2 linked regions of the Homo sapiens genome follow. The protein of the gene in region 1 purifies or fractionates together with the protein of each later gene. This does not show direct contact. Each region holds a gene or a part of one and is shown in the gene's direction. Other genes may lie near its edges. The genes, in order: SSX7 and DHX32.

Region 1 (3,823 bases):
GATCCTCAGGCATTTGTTCCCTCATACACATCAGGGCTGAGTGAAAAAAAAAAAAATTGCATGCAGAAAGTTAACTACAGAGGCCATTCATATAAAATTTTAAAACACGAAAAACAAGAATATATATTTTTATAGATAATAAGTAAATGGTAAATGTATACAAACATGAATGTGAATAAAAAGCCATCAAATTGAGGTGACTGGCTGTAAGTGGAGGAGGGAGGGCGGGCAGGGATTGCTGAGTGCTGCACAGACAGCTTCAGCTGTGACTTGTTGATAGTGTGTTTTGTTTGTTTTTGTTTTTGAGATGGAGTTTCACTCTTCTCGGCCAGGGTAGAGTGCAATAAGGCAATCTCAGCTCACTCCAACTTTCACCTCCTGGGTTCAAGTGATTCTCCTGCCTCAGCCTCCGGAGTAGCTGGGGTTACGGGTGCCCGCCCCCACACCCAGCTCATTTTTTATTTTTGGTAGAGACGGGGTTTTACCATGTTGACCAGGCTGGTCTCAAACTTCCTGACCTCAGGTGATCCACCTGCCTCAGCCTCCCAAAGTGCTGGGATTACAAGTGTGAGCTACCATGCCCGGCCTGTTTGTAGTTTTTCTAATATTGTGAATAAATAAATCAAACCTAGCATAGCTGTGGGGTAATGTTGAGATCCGACTGGACTCAATATTATTCCTCATACTTTTCTGTGTGTTTGAAATATTTCTTTTTTAGATGACATGTTGTTCTTCCTAAGCACCATTAATGAATCAAAGGACTGCTAAAAAAATGTTACAAGAGAAAAAAAGAAGAAAGAAAATGTTACAACTGTAGATTCGCCAAAAACTTCCAGAGTTTGTCTCATTAACAGCATGTAGGTATTGGATAGGTATCTTAGGAGTGAGGATGATGAACACATTATGTAATAAAGATCGCTGTTTCTCTGTATTTTATCAGAGCCAAATAGTCTTTTCATTCCCAAAGAACCCTGATTCTCCGTGATGAGCTTGGAAGAGAGTTTGAAAGAGTGATCCCTCATCCAACACACAGAGAGAGCTTTCCCACTTGCCAGAGAGCAGAGATAACATAGGGTGAAAAAAAGACAGGTTCTTCGGTAGAGATCTTTGTACGTTTTGGGAATATAAAGGGGTCACATATGTGTTTCCTTGCTCTTCTGCTCTGACAACACAATTATAAGACAAGGTCAGAACGTCCAAACTGTCTCCAATAGACCTATTACTCCCCAACTAAAAAGGCCAGATTCTAAAATCTCCCACGATCACTGTAAGAGATCTGAAAATCCAGTGCTTGGGTGTCTGCCAAGATTTTGACATTAAAGGACTGTCTTTATACTGAAAATATCTCAGAGCCACTGGACTAAATCATCCATGGTTCATCACACATTTAACAGCTTAATTCACATACCATAAGATTCACCCATTTGAAGTGTGCAATGATTTTCAGTTGTTGCACATCTTGAGTGGATACAGTTCAGATTCCTAACCAATCAATTTAATTATTTGGAAAAAAATAAAAGATATGTAAAGGAATAAGATGAGACTGTGATGGGGTTTAGTCCCCATTTGATAAACCATGAGATGGAAAATTCTGAATTGATGCCACAGATAAATGAATCAACCATGACTAAACATAATTCAGAAGCAAAACTGAAATAACTCCTCAACAATGAGTGGACTCATAACACTCTGCTGCAGAATACCCTGATGCTACAGAAGTCTCTAGAGTTTGGAAATCTTTACCAACAAAGAAAAATTCTGATATATTCTCTTTCAGTTGAACGTCCTCAGATGACTTTTTGCAGGCTCCAGAGAATCTTCCCGAAGGTGAGTGTCTCTCAGATCTAAAGGACCAGAGAACCTTTGTCCCTCCATGGATGCAAACACTGGTAAGAGTGGGAGAATATAAAAAATGCCCTCACTGCCTCCTTCTCCCCATGTCTATCACAACACCTGATGTAGCACCAACAGCTTAATAATACTAACAGTTGTGATCCTTAATACATCTTTTGTTTTCATAGTGATGCCAGATACTATTTTAAGCAGTTCACATGGATTAATGTATTTAATCCTTAAGAAGACCTGTATGACTTTGTTTCTATTATTATCTCCAAATAATAATGAGTCACACACTTCGGTTGTCGTCCATATAAAAGCCATGTGACTTGGCACAAGTCTTCTAAGTTCTCTGAGCTCCAGATTCCTGGTCCATGAAATGGAAGTAAAGAATCGTAGTTATCAGCAACATAATAATAAAATGAGGCTATTGGGGTATAGATATGTTAAATAATTTTCCTGGGGCACAGTGGCAGTGGTAGTCTAATCCAGAGCTCCAAGCCATTTAAAGCTCATTCACGTTTGCATTTGTTTATGAAGTTCAGATGTTGCTCACTAGGGCTTCACCCCATAGGGCCTGCTGGTGCTTCCATTGAGACACCCATTCTCGCAATAGGAAAGACCAGCTGGCCTCTGCTCTGTTACTGGGACCACTTGCATGGCTTAGGAATCGTTTTGACTGTTGGCCCCTCCCTACTGTGAGCTCCTTGAGGACCTTGTCTGCACCTGGGGCATCCCAGAAGCCCCCATCCCAGCCCAGGGGATCCCTCGGAGGCCCCTGAATGAGTGACCCCACAAGTGCAGATTCAACTCTGGTTTAGAGGGTAAAGGGATCTGGGAGTTGGGTTGCTAGTGTGGAGACCGAATTGAAGGAAGGATCATGAAAGGTATTAATTGTTATTATTACTGCATTTAAACAGTGTTTACAAGCTCAGAGAGGACTTTCCCGTAGACTATTTTACATGTATTGTTCACTATCTCATAAGCAAGGAAGCTGAATAAAAAGTAGATTAAGAGCGGGGCACGGTGGCTAGCGACTGTAATCCCAGCACTTTGGGAGGCTGAGGTGGATGGATCACTAGGTCAAGAGGTCAAGACCATCCTGCCCAACATGGTAAAACCTCATCTCTATTAAAAATACAAAACTTAGCGGGGCGTGGTAGCGCCTGCCTGCAGTCCCAGATACTCTGGAGGCTGTTGCATGAGTCACTTAAACACAGGAGTTGGATGTTGCAGTGAGCTGAGATCGTGCCACTGCACTGCAGCCTGGTGACAGAGTGAGACTCTGTCTCAAAACAAAACAACAAAAAAAAAAGTAGCTTAAGATTGTTGGTCAGTGACACATCCCAATGCAACCAGAATTGGTATGGGTACCACCTCACTGAATTCCACATTCAGTGTTGGTGCCTCGGTAGGGTGGTATGCCAGATCTGGTACTGCTTTCTTCGCTGCCTAGATTAATTTTAGCAAACCATTTCTTTACCTCTCCCTTCCCTGTATTAATCTCCCCACACCATCTTTCCCAGCAGTGTTTTGTCCCCTCTCTATGTTTTTACATTTACTCTCCCAGCAGCTAAGAGCTTATATGAGATCCCTTGTATTTCATAGAAGCTCTTCCTTTTGTAGACCTTGTGAATTTTAAAAATGCTATCCTTCTTCCAATCTTTTGTATACCAAACTCTCAATTGCATGGAGATTTTTACTGTTTGCAAGAATGTCAGTCTTAAAGAGTGTGAAGATAAGCATTCTAGCCCTGGAAACGATATTCACATAGGCCATTCCTTTCCCGTCTAACTTCCCAGGTTTCTCCTAATTTAGGCATGTGTAACTCTCCCAGCATTGTTGAGAACATTGATTAAGGTAATGCATGTGAAGACGCTTTGTAAGCTCTAAAGCACTATAGAAATGTCACTGATTCTGTTTATCTGTGACCTTCACATTATAAAGATCATGCCCAAGAAGCCAGCAGAGGAAGGAAATGATTCGA
Region 2 (3,823 bases), on another chromosome or scaffold:
TTTTGAGACGGAGTCTCGCTCTGTCGCCCAGGCTGGAGTGCAGTGGTGCCATCTCGGCTCACTACAAGCTCCACTTCCTGGGTTCACGCCATTCTCCTGCCTCAACCTCCCGAGTAGCTGGGACCACAGGCGCCTGCCACCACGCCCGGCTAATTTTTTGTATTTTTTTAGTTGAGACGGGGTTTCACCGTGTTAGCCAGGATGGTCTCAATCTCCTGACCTGGTGATCCTCCCGCCTCGGCCTCCCAAAGTGAGGTTTTTGAGCTACTCAGTTTGCCTGAAATTTAGACATAGAGCTTAATGATCAAAGTTTAGACAGCACATAAGAAAATTTTTACCATATGTTACTTTGAACTCCCAGGAGCAGACAGGTTCAAGCGCTTCTTAGGGCCCCAGAGTCTTCAGCCCCTGCCCACCTTGCACTTACTGGAACTAAAACAAAACCAACCTAGTGGCTCATAAATCCTGCAGTTTTGGGGTATAACAATACAGCAGCTTTCTATTATGGGATTTGCTTCATTGTGTGACCTGTATTGCTATACCAGGAACCAGAAGGGTGGACAAAACACATGTATTTATTTAATAAATATTAGGTTGGTGCAAAAATAATTGTGGTTTTTGCCATTGAAAGTAATGGCAAAAACCGCAATTACTTTTGCACCAATCTATATATAGCCTTATTCCACAAAGAGAATATATTTCTTTAAATAAATGGATTTTTAAAAACTTTGGTAAAGACTGAGCATATATAATACCACATCATTATCGATGTTACATAAACTTAAAAGAAATAAAGAGATGGAGAGAATCAGCTTGCTATCTTTATTTCTTTATTTGCACTGGGAAATAACATCTTTGTCTACTATTTCTAGCATCTGAGATCCAGGTCAGTTGTGATTAATTTTTCTCTGTATTATGCAATGTATTTTCCTGCTTTTCATGCCTCTCTACTGGATGCTAGACATTGTACATTTTACCTTCTTGGGCACTGAATATTTTTGTAGTCCCAGAGGTACTTTTGAGCTTTGTCCTAGGATGCAGTGTGATCCTTTCAGGTCCTGCTGTATAGCTGTGTCAGGTGGCAGTGCCCATCTAGGGTTTCTCACTTGTGTTTTCTACCCAGTGCCCCATAAATCATGAGGTTTTCCAGCTAGGGTGGTGGGAACAGGCCCTACCCTAGGTCCTGTGTCAGCACCACTGTTCCTTCTAATCTTCTCACATGGCTCTTTCTCTGGCCTGAGGTGGTTCCTTACACACATGCGCTGATCAGTAGGGCTGTGCTGCCTAGTTGAGGGAGCTCCCTCTGGCCCCCGACTTAGATCTGTGTGTCTCTCTCCAGTACTGTGACCGCGAGTTCCGGCCACCTTAGTCTCCCTGGATCCCTGGCATTGTTTTCCTACTGCAGGGAGGCTGGCAGGCTCCACCTGGGTTCCCCCCGCATGCACACTGCAGCTGGGACCCTCCTCGGAGCATGAGCTGGACAATCACAGGGCTCCCCTCCTGAGTTTGCCCTCTCAAGAATCACTATCCTTCACTCCCTGGTATTTGGTGGCTTGCAAACCGTTGTTTCACATATTTTGTCCATTGTTTGCTTGTTTCATGCAGGAGGGAAAAGTCCAGTACCTGTTTCTCCATCTTAGCCATATGAGACTCTTAAATTATTATTTTTTTCCTTTCCTAGCACCAGAAAGTTTGATGCAGGCATTGGAAGACTTAGATTATCTGGCAGCACTGGATAATGATGGAAATCTTTCTGAATTTGGAATCATCATGTCAGAGTTTCCTCTTGATCCACAACTCTCGAAGTCTATCTTAGCGTCCTGTGAATTTGACTGTGTAGATGAAGTGCTAACAATCGCAGCCATGGTAACAGGTATCCTTAATGACTATTCCTTTTCTTTTTTTGCAAATCTGCACTAGGTATAGATTTAGATCGGATCCATTTGAAATTATATTTTGAGGAGCACAGAGCAGAGATAGTGATCAACTCATTTAACCTTTTGAAATGATAGTGAGGTATTTTAATAGGTTAGAAAAGGAAAATTTTCTTAATATGAAAAATTATCTTAAGAAAACTAACTCAAAGTTCAGCAAATTTATACATCAGATGTATGAAAACATACTAGATTTCTTTTGCTGAAATAATCAGTGCAGATGAAGAAAATGTGTCACTAGAGGTGTTTTTCCCCAAATAATGTTGTGTGCCTGTTTTTTATTTCCTATTGGCTTCATTCATCCTGGCTTGTATGTTTTAATTTATTCTAATACTGGGGGAACAGACCAACCATTGTGCTGTATCGGAACTGGTTCCAATCCTCTTCTTGTGTCTGGACCTCCAAGCACCTCAGGTTTTCCCTGCTCCTGCCGGAATAGAAGCAGGATATTAACCATATTCAGTTGACCTTAGAAAAGCAAACACACACACACAAAAGGAGAGGGAGAATTAGGATGACTCACTCTAAATTTCTGGGATTTCTAAGTAAACAAGAATAACATATTTATTCAGAGTACCAAGACAGGAGCCATGCCACTAACAGTCGTGACCCCTCCCCTCTGCATGTTAGGCTAAGATAAAATGTCTTCATTATTGCTAACCATGTGACCTTTTTCATTTTGAAGCTCCAAATTGCTTTTCACATGTGCCACATGGAGCTGAAGAGGCTGCCTTGACTTGTTGGAAGACATTTTTACATCCCGAAGGAGATCACTTTACCCTCATCAGCATTTACAAGGCTTACCAAGACACAACTCTGAATTCTAGCAGTGAGTGTAAGTGAATGCTCAGAAACTACCTATTAATTCCACCTTCCTTTCCCTAGATAAGTCTGAGTCCTTATTAGTTATTCATCAAACATTCTTCGCCAGCCCTACTGGCCACTTGAATGCAATGGCACTTGAGGCCCTAAACGCACCCACAGGCATCTGCAGAGTGGGAGATGCTCAGTCCCCCTGCTCCCACGGAGCTCTGGTGTGCCACCATGGCGGGCCTGTACTTCCAGAGCTCCAGGACTCCACTCAGCCAGCCTTCAGAGCAAGCTTGCTTGGGGCATGGTGACGGGGGACACAGACTCGTACATGGGTCTTTGGAGGAAGACAAGAACAGCCACCTCTACGTGCCCACTGTCAGAGTTGTGCTGTGCACCTTCCGTATCCTGGCACATTCACCACGTGCATGCAGAGAGGCTGCAGAGCTCCAGATACTAGTGCAGAATAGGTAGGCTGGGGTGCTGAGGGGAGGCTGCAGAGTTGCTGACGGAGCTTGATAGAGGAGAGCAGAGGGTGTCCAGAGAAGAGAATGGCGCATGTCAAAGCAAAGCCACAAAGTCCTTTGTATGCCTGAAGGGCAGTGGGTAGCTTACCTGTCACAGGAAGGTACTCAGAAGTCAACTGGAAGCTGCTATGCAGACAGAAACAAGAGGAGGGGGCAAACAGGGCAAAGCAGCATAGCAGAGGCTAGAGCCACCCATAAAGGGCAGCCAGTAAGGTCCCTCCCTGACATTTTCCATGAAGCATCTTTTACCTCCTTTGTTCTGAAAGATGGTGTGAAAATATGTGAAGTAGTGTGAAAAATATGACAGCAATTTGAAAGACAGAATTGTATAAAGAACAGGGAGTTAGTGTTTCAAAGCTGAGAAGAAAAAGTTGTCAGTGGAGCCAGCAGGTACACAGGAATCTGGTGGCACCTTTTGAGGGCATGCTGAATGGGTGACACTAAGTACATGCTGTGGTTGCTCCGAGCAGCATGAGTGGACAGGACAGGGTAAATGAGGGTCTTCTGTCCATGGTGCCATGGCCATGTACATTCCCAGGTCCATCTTAAGTA

The links.
Region 2: the proteins of SSX7 (region 1) and DHX32 purify together in Homo sapiens (affinity purification with mass spectrometry; one large-scale study listed by BioGRID and IntAct). This does not show direct contact.

What each region holds. Positions count from the first base shown.
Region 1 is NC_000023.11:52,648,357-52,652,179, reverse strand, and holds part of SSX7 (protein SSX7), read left to right. Parts: intron 1-1,777; coding exon 1,778-1,827; intron 1,828-3,783; coding exon 3,784-3,823.
Region 2 is NC_000010.11:125,839,793-125,843,615, reverse strand, and holds part of DHX32 (putative pre-mRNA-splicing factor ATP-dependent RNA helicase DHX32), read left to right. Parts: intron 1-813; exon of another isoform or gene 814-1,681; coding exon 1,682-1,873; exon of another isoform or gene 1,874-2,256; coding exon of another isoform or gene 2,257-2,361; intron 2,362-2,619; coding exon 2,620-2,769; intron 2,770-3,823. Other genes in the region: BCCIP (BRCA2 and CDKN1A-interacting protein), read right to left, coding at 2,286-2,361.